Regions from separate parts of the Homo sapiens genome. Here all the other regions are linked to region 1. The links come from fine-mapping of genetic effects on gene expression. A gene starts in region 1. Each other region holds a variant in brackets. All regions are shown on one strand. Distances are between the middles of the regions.

Region 1 (2,765 bases):
GCTGGGATTAAAAACTTGTGTGTTCTTGGCAAGAGCATGTTGCTGCAGAATTTCACCAGCCATAGTGGGGAAAAAAGAGGGGTGAGGGGGCGTGGGGAAAATGGGAGACCACAAAATTCCTGATATGATACATAAAATGTTAAATATCTATCAGCTTTGCATCCTTTGAGAGTCACCAGATTGAAGCACAGTATTTTGGATTTGGCTGGCAGATGGTGTACACAGACTTTCTGAGAATGTTAGCATTTCATTTGAAACTAGCAAGATTACATGTGACTATCATGGTAACTTAGCACTCACATATTTTTCAACTTATCCCTAACCCTGGGTTGAATGTAGAGGCTCTAATAACATATAAAAGGCTTTGTTAATGTATGGTCTGGGTCTCATTGAATAGTATTTCAGGATGTAATACTTCTTTTAAAATGTCCACAGGGCAGTGTCAACGTCTTTCCATGGAAATCTGGCTCACCCAATAAGAGAAAAGAGGCCAAAGGTAAGAAAGACTAAACCAGGGGAGATGGCAGGCAGTGATGTCTGGACTGTTTGAATGGGACTTCTCCATTTACCGCCCCTCTCACTTCCTTCTATGGTCTGGACCTTTAATCACCACAGCAGTCAGCCATGTAGGGTCAAGCTAATCGCTGTTGACATCATCCTACTACTTCCCTTTTCAAATTCCAGTGAAGCTATGTGTTTCCTGTCCTATTCCACACCCTAGAGAATGAATACCGGCCAGCTAGTATCTAAATTTAGAATGGCAGCAACGTGTCGGGTTTTCGGAGTAGAGATAAACAAAACCAGGTGACATTTCCAAGCCTCTCAAGGAAAGGGGGGAAAAAACCTTTCTGGGGTAAGTAAATAAGGAGAGCTTCAATAGTTCCATGGTAGAGAGAGGCCTGCTGGAAGGTTCAGAAAATAGGCCGTTTGGAACCTTCTCCTTTAAGCCAGGAGGGCGGCTTTGGGAGGCGTCTTGAAATACATTCTTGACTCTGCTGGGAAAGCTCGGGGAGCCAGAGGCCTAATACCCCCCACTTCAGGGGAAGCTGTGAAGGCAGCTGCACCTCCTTTGTCAAGCTGTTGGTTTCAACCACAGACACGAGGACACACTTGAGGTGGGGGGATAAGGGGAGAAGCCTGCCGCCCCGCCCCACCCCCGCCAGCACACCGCCCTCGCCATTCCTCTCCCGCCCCGCCCCGCCCGGCGTCTGTGACCCCGCGGGCCGAGCCTCAGGCGACCTGTTGGCAGGGAGAGTCACGTGATGCGCCGGCTGTGCACTCCCCTCGGGCGGGCCTCCTGTTGCGCCCGCCTGGCGAGTTCCATCACGTAACGCGCGGGCGCCGCCCAGCTCTTCCCTCGCTGAGCGAGGGAGGGCGGGCGTCGAAGAGGAAAGGGAAGGGGAAAGGGGCGGGAGAAGGGAGGAGGGGCGGTGTCCGAGTCACGTGACCCGGGGCAGCCCGGAAAGCTCCGAGGAGGAGCCTGGCGCCGCCATTTTCCTGCAGCTGCCTGTTCCTCTTACCCTGCCCGGCTCCAGCTGACCCGGGAAGGGGTGGGCTGAACTGAGGCGGGGGCAAGGGAGTGCCCGACATCTTGTCCGACTCCGCGGGTGACACGAGCCGGTTCTCTCTGGACTGGTGGCAGCGCGCGGCCCCGAACCGCGCCCCAGGCCGGCAGGCGGGGAAGGAGCCGGTGGGGGTAGGGGGTGCGGTGGGGGGTGGGGACCCTCCGGCTCTTGGGGGTCCCAGTCCCCGCCGGCTGCTGAGCGGGTGGGGTGGTGGAGGAGCTGCAGAGATGTCCGGCCAGAGCCTGACGGACCGAATCACTGCCGCCCAGCACAGTGTCACCGGCTCTGCCGTATCCAAGACAGTATGCAAGGCCACGACCCACGAGATCATGGGGCCCAAGAAAAAGCACCTGGACTGTGAGTGAAGCCGACCGCGGCCCCCGCTCCCCGGCGCCCGCGCGACCCGCGCGCGTCCTTCTCTCTCTCTCTTGTCTTTCACCCTTCTACTGCCTCTTCCCTCCCTGCGTCTTCTCTGGCACGGCCGGTCCTGTGCCCGTTGAGCTGTGTTCTTTTGCTTCCATCACACCTGCCTTCACGGCCTCCGCTCCCCGTCTCAAAATCTGACAAGCCACTCCCCTCCCTATTCCTAGGGGACCCTCGTCTCCCTGCCCGGTGCGCTACCACACCCCATCATACCCAACCAACTTGCTTCCCCACCTGGCTTCTCACCCCCTACCCGTCTCCACTGCAGCCTTCTGCTCTTCCTTCCCACCCGTCCGGTGCCGCCTCGTCGCCCTCGTCTGAGCGTCTCCAAGCCCCATTGTTTCTTCATCAGCCTCCTTCGGGTTTCAGTAAACGCCTGGTTCCTTGCATCCAGATCCTTGTTATCCCTCCGGGCTGCCTCCCTGGAAGGGATCCCCCACTTCCTTTGCTCCACTAGCTGCTTCGCCCATCCCTTCCTGGCTTTCTGTTCCACCTTCCCTCCTGCTTTTGGGTTACCTTTTCATCGCCTCTATAGTAGCTTCAGTGTAGTTTCTTCGACTCATTTTAAATACCATACCCAGTTACCCGACTTTTATTTCAGATTACCTTCTTTGTGGGAGTGAAAGTAAAAGGATTCAATTTGGTGTAGGGAAAGCTTTCTGGAAAGTTGGGATTTTTATTTGCCTCTGGTGGAATTTAATCGTTGTGTTGTCCATACTTTTGACTGGGGTGAGTTTGTGACTGTCAGCTCTGCCCCCCAGCTTTTCACATGGGGAT
Region 2 (2,765 bases), 120 kb before region 1:
TTCTGCCTTTTGCTATGGCCCTAGATTCTCCTGCACTGCTTGGCTTTTTTGGATGGATGGCTTAGAGTAACAGCTGATGGCTGTTAAAATATTGTGAGTTCACCAACAATGAAAGAAATACAAATCGAAACAGCCTAAGATTGTTAAGATTCAGGCCAGGTGTGGTGGCTCACACATGTAATCCCAGCACTTTGGGAGGCCGAGGCAGGCAGATCACCTGAGACCAGGAGTTTGAGACCAACCTGGCCAACATGCTGAAACCTCATTTCTACTAAAAAATACAAAAATTAGCTGGATGTGGTTGTGCATGCCTGTAATTCCCAGCTACTGGGGAGGTTGAGGCAGGATAATCACTTGAACCCAGGAGGAAGTGGTTGCAGTGAGCCAAGATCGTGCCACTGCACTTGAGCCTGGGCAACAGAGTGAGATTCTGTCTCAAAATAAAAATAAAAAATAAGATTCTATCATGTACCTATACCTGATATGGTTTGGCTCAGTCACCACCCAAATCTCATCTTGAATTGTAATAATCCCCATGTGTCAAGGGCCGGGCCAGATGGAGATAACTGAATCATGGGGATGGTTTCCCCCATACTGTTCTCATGGGAGAGAGTAAGTTTCATGAGATCTGATGGTTTTATAAATGGGCGTTCCCCTACACAAACTCTCTTACCTGCTACCATGTAAGACATGACTTTGCTTCTCCTTTGCCTTCTGCCATGATTATGAGGCCTCCCCAGCCATGTGGAACTGTGAGTCAATTAAACCTCTTTTCTTTATAAATTATCCAGTCTCAAGTATGTCTTTATTAGCAGTGTGAGAACAGACTAATACAGTAACTATATCATTAATATACACAAATAAAGCAACAAAGCCTTATGTTGGCAGAGGCTGTGGAGAGGAAGGCAAGTGCAAACTTTGCTGATAGCATTTTAGGTACAGTCAACTCTTCTGCAGACTAACCAGGGAAGCAGTACATGAGCTGTATGTGCCCTTTGTTCCACTTTGGAACATACCTCAAGGACATAAGCTAAAGGAAAAATGTAGTAAGCAGTGAAGATTCTAGTACCACTATTTATAATGGCACAAAATGAAAACAATCCAAGTCCTGAGCTTTAAAGTAATTTTTAAATAATATCCAACTAACTGATTTGGAACGCTGTGTAACCATTAAAAATGATAACCAAGTGAACATGGAAACATATCTATGAAATAATGTTGAGTGAAAAAAGCAAAGCACA[C/G]TAAGCGTCAGTGAGGGCATAGGAAAGTGGGAACCCTCAATATATTGTTGGTGGGAATATAAAATGGTACAGCCACTTTCGAAAACACAACCTGGAAGTTCCTCAAAAAGTTAAAAATAGAGTTATCGTTTGACAATGTCACTCCTAAGTATATGCCCAAGAGAAATGAAAACATATGTCCACACAAAAACTTGTACACAAATATTCATAACAGCACTACTCATAATAGTCAAAAGGTAGAAACAACTCAGATGTCCATTGGCTGATAAAATGATAAGCAAAAGGTGCTATACTTACACAATGGAGTATTATTTGGCCATAAAAAGGATAAAGTAGGTACATGCTTCAGCATGGATGAATCTTGAGAACATTATGCTAAGTGAAAGAAGGCAGTCACAAAAGACCACATGTTATATAAAACCATTTCTATGAGGGAGGATTCAGATGTGATAGTAAAAGGTACAGGGTTTCTTTTTGAGATGCTAAAAATGTCCTCAAATTGATGTGGTCATGGTTATACAACTCTGTGAATATACCAAAAACCACTGGATGTACACTTTAAGTGGGTGGATTGTATAGTATGTGAATTATATCCCAATAAAGCTATTACAAAAATTTTTTAAAATCATTAAATGGTATGTTTACAGTGGGTAAATTTTATGAAGAAATATATAACATACATACAAAAACTTCAATAAAGCTTTTTTTTTTTTTTTCTGAGACGGAGTCTCACTCTGTTGCTTGGGCTGGAGTGCAGTGGCGCAATCTCGGCTCACTGCCAGCTCCGCCTCCCAGGTTCATGCCGTTCTCCTGCCTCAGCCTCCTGAGTAGCTGGGACTACAGGCGCCCACCACCATGCCTGGCTAATTTTTTGTATTTTTAGTAGAGACGGGGTTTCACTGTGTTAGCCAGGATGGTCTCGATCTCCTGACCTCGTGATCCACCCGCCTTGGCCTCCCAAAGTGCTGGGATTACAGGTGTGAGCCACCACGCCCAGCCAAGCTATTTTAAAAAAAAAAAGAAAAAGAAAAGAAAAACACACTTGGGTGCGGTGGCTCACGCCTGTAATCCCAGCACTTTGGGAGGCCAAGGTGGGTGGATTACCTGAGGTCAGGAGTTAGAGACCAGCCTGACTAACACGGAGAAACCCCGTCTCTACTAAAAATACAAAAAAAATTAGCCGGGTGTGGTGGTGCATGCCTGTAATCCCAGCTACTCGGGAGGCTGAGGCAGGAGTATTGCTTGAACCCGGGAGGTGGAGGTTGCAGTGAGCCAAGATCGTGCCATTGCATTCCAGCCTGAGCAACAAGAGCAAAACTCCATCTCAACCAAAAAAAAAAAAAAAAAAAGAAAGGAAAGAAAAGCACAAACTAGTCACTGCTTTGTATGCATCTATATTTTTATAAAGTAACAAAGGCTGGAAGATACTGGGAGTCAGTGAAGGTATAACAGAAAGACACCAGATCTGCAATCTAAAGGCCTGGTTCCATTCCTCCTCATCCTGTTATTTTCTAACCATGTGAC
Region 3 (2,765 bases), 51 kb before region 1:
GCCTGTAATCCCAGCTACTCAGGACGCTGAGGCAGGAGAATCGCTTGAACCCAGAAGGCGGAGGTTGCAGTGAGCCAAGATTGTGCCACTGCATTCCAGTCTGGGCCACTGCATTCCAGTCTGGGCAAGAAGAGTGAAACTCCATCTAAAAAAAAAAAAAGGTGACCTTAATTGAAGACAGGGTCTTTACAGAGATAATCAAGTTTAAAAGAGGTCATTAGGCTGGACCCTAGTGCAGTATGACTGACATCCTTATAGGACTAGCAATTGGGATACAAAAACACAGAGAGTATAAAGGGAAGATGATGTTAGAGGCATAAGGAGAATATAGCCATCTACAGGTTAAGGAGAAAGTCCTCAAATGGAATACCCTTGCTGACCTCTTGATTTCGGACTTTAGACTACAGAACTGAGAGACAATCAATTTTTGTTGTTTAAGCCCCTCAGTTTGTGGTACTTTGTTATGATAGCTCTAAGAAACTAATACATTTAGTACAGTGTGTTAAACATAATAGCCTGTGTTAACTATACTTAAAAGGATAAAGGAAGGAGTAGAGAATAAAACTCAGGGGAGAGGGAGCAGCAGTACTCAGGAGAGGGCATGAAATGGCAGACACAATTGGGAACAGTTTCTGGAGTAGCAAGCAGTGGTCTATGGGAGTCTCAAATGAAATAATAAAGGTGATATTATTTTGTATTAAAAATACTATAACTAAGGGCAGTTATCACTATGACTTTTGACGATATCATACCCCCAAATATGTACCAGCTACCGAATGGAAAAACTACTGATACAACTAGTTCATAGTGATCATTCCTGTGTTTGATCACCTGAGAAGCATTAATGGGGTTTATATTAACTTTGAATATGTTAAAAATTAAAAGGTTTATATTAACATTGACAGTGTTGAAAAGTAAAGGGTATATATTAACTTTGACAATGTTAAAGATTAAAGGGATAATCTTTGACTATCTGCATCAACAACTGAGGGACAAACATCTTGACAGAGGATTCATATGAGTGGCAGAAACTACATCTTGCCTTGCAAATAACTCTCTATATTTGAATGCCACACATTGTTTGTTTCTAGAATCTCTTCCACTGAAATGTTACCCTAGATATAGATAAGGGGCACCAAAAGGCCAGAAGTATGAAAAAAGAAAGGATGAATAGAAGAAAGGAAAAGAGAGAGGAAGGAAGGAAGGGAGGCAGGCAGGGACATGGTACTTTTTCTTACCCCAGATCCAAGTTCCAACTCTTTTGAAACCCTAATATTTGGTTTCAGATGATACTGGATATTTTCTAAAGTAGCCAAATTTTTAGGTTATTTGACAAACATTGTGGTTAAATTATTAATATGGGATAAAGATATTATTTAATAGTAATTTGCAAAAATCAATGCTTCTTTAGTGTCCTCGTTTTA[G/T]GGTTTATTTCCAAAATTTTTGAAGCAGCATTCCATTTCAGAAAATGACATGAAGATTCTCTGGAGGTCTAGGAATTATGTAGATGGAAAAGAAATCTGATGACACTATCTTGACCTTTTTAATACTAAGTAATACTAACATAATAATAACAACAGCTATTCCTTTATTCTAAGGGTTTTCATTTTAAAGGCTTACTGTTATTCATTTTCAATGCATAGCTCCTTATTAATTATCATTTTCTAGGGCTATGTGGATGACTTGAGTTCTATTAAATACCAAATGATTTCTCACGTACCTAAGTTTGGAATCTACCTCTTTTAGTAGGCAGAAATTACTCTCCATGAGAATAGTGTCCAGGCAGTCCCAAGGAATGTAATTGTCCTTCTTTCTTGCTGATGAATAACTGCTGATGCTTCTAGTCCCAGGTACAGCTAGGAAAGAAAATGATGATGTATAACTTCAATAGCTTTCCTGGAGCAGGGAGCAGGGGATAGATTAAGTGTCCTTCTACATTTGTATATGTGCAAGAAAAGTACCTCATATTGTTTCCAAGGAAATGTTTAATAGGTTTTTCCTGGCCTGGGATAGTCCATGTATGGTATATACTGTCTTTACGTCCCAAAATTTTCTGCTAAGCATTCTGATCTCTGTACTCCGTGAAGTCATTTTTGTGAAGAAGGCCTTAAATGAAATCAATGGCTGGGCAAAGACTGTGAGAATGTTTGAACCAGTTCTTTATGATTTTTTAAAATTTTATTTATTTATTTATTTATTTATTTAATTAATTTATTTATTTATCTGAGACAGGGTCTCACTCTGTCGCCCAGGCTACAGTGCAGTGGCATGGTCTCGGCTTACTACAACCTCCACCTCCTGGGTTCAAGCAATTCTCCCCCCTTATCCTCCCGAGTAGCTGGGATTACAGGCACCTGCCACCACGCCCAGCTAATTTTTGTCTTTTTTGGTAGAGATGGGGTTTCACCATGTTGGCCAGGCTGGTCTCAAACTCCTGACCTCAAGTGATCCCCCACCTCGAACTCCCAAAGTGTTGGGATTACAGGCATGAGCTACCGTGCCTGGCCTTGAACCAGTTCTGATGTAATGCCTCTTGCAGGAAAATCCCAGGAGTTTTTGGGATGCTTGTTTCTGGTTCCACTACAAAACATCACAGTCTTAGGTAGACTTAATACAAGTGGACATAATTATGCAGCCCTGTTCCACATCATTAGTGAGAGTAAATGCCTCTGCCAGGATTCTGCCAACACTGTTTCTAGCCAGACATCCATTAGTAAACATTGCAGTCTTAAAATACTGGTTGGCTTCTGTGCCTGGGCTGTCTG

Evidence for each region. PIP is the estimated chance that this variant, and not a neighbour inherited with it, causes the effect.
Region 2: its variant is the best candidate, but not a certain one, in a credible set for the expression of PICALM in whole blood (INTERVAL, PIP 0.83).
Region 3: its variant is the best candidate, but not a certain one, in a credible set for the expression of PICALM in fibroblasts (GTEx, PIP 0.66).

Annotation. Positions count from the first base shown.
Region 1 is chr11:86,067,808-86,070,572 of GRCh38, reverse strand. PICALM (phosphatidylinositol binding clathrin assembly protein) reads left to right here and starts at 1,489. Exons shown (of 20, transcript NM_007166.4): 1 at 1,489-1,922. The coding sequence starts at 1,793. It overlaps LOC124902731 (a long non-coding RNA gene), which reads right to left and starts at 649. Exons shown (of 2, transcript XR_007062823.1): 1 at 1-649. RefSeq lists silencers at 975-1,244, 1,395-1,564, 1,705-1,754, 1,825-1,874 and enhancers at 500-1,699, 1,439-2,140, 2,141-2,765.
Region 2 is chr11:86,187,679-86,190,443 of GRCh38, reverse strand. No RefSeq gene overlaps it. Among named protein-coding and RNA genes, the nearest start is that of LINC02695, 4.4 kb to the left of the region's middle. The variant C/G (reference allele first, on the strand shown) is at 1,242.
Region 3 is chr11:86,119,159-86,121,923 of GRCh38, reverse strand. No RefSeq gene overlaps it. Among named protein-coding and RNA genes, the nearest start is that of PICALM, 51 kb to the right of the region's middle. The variant G/T (reference allele first, on the strand shown) is at 1,425.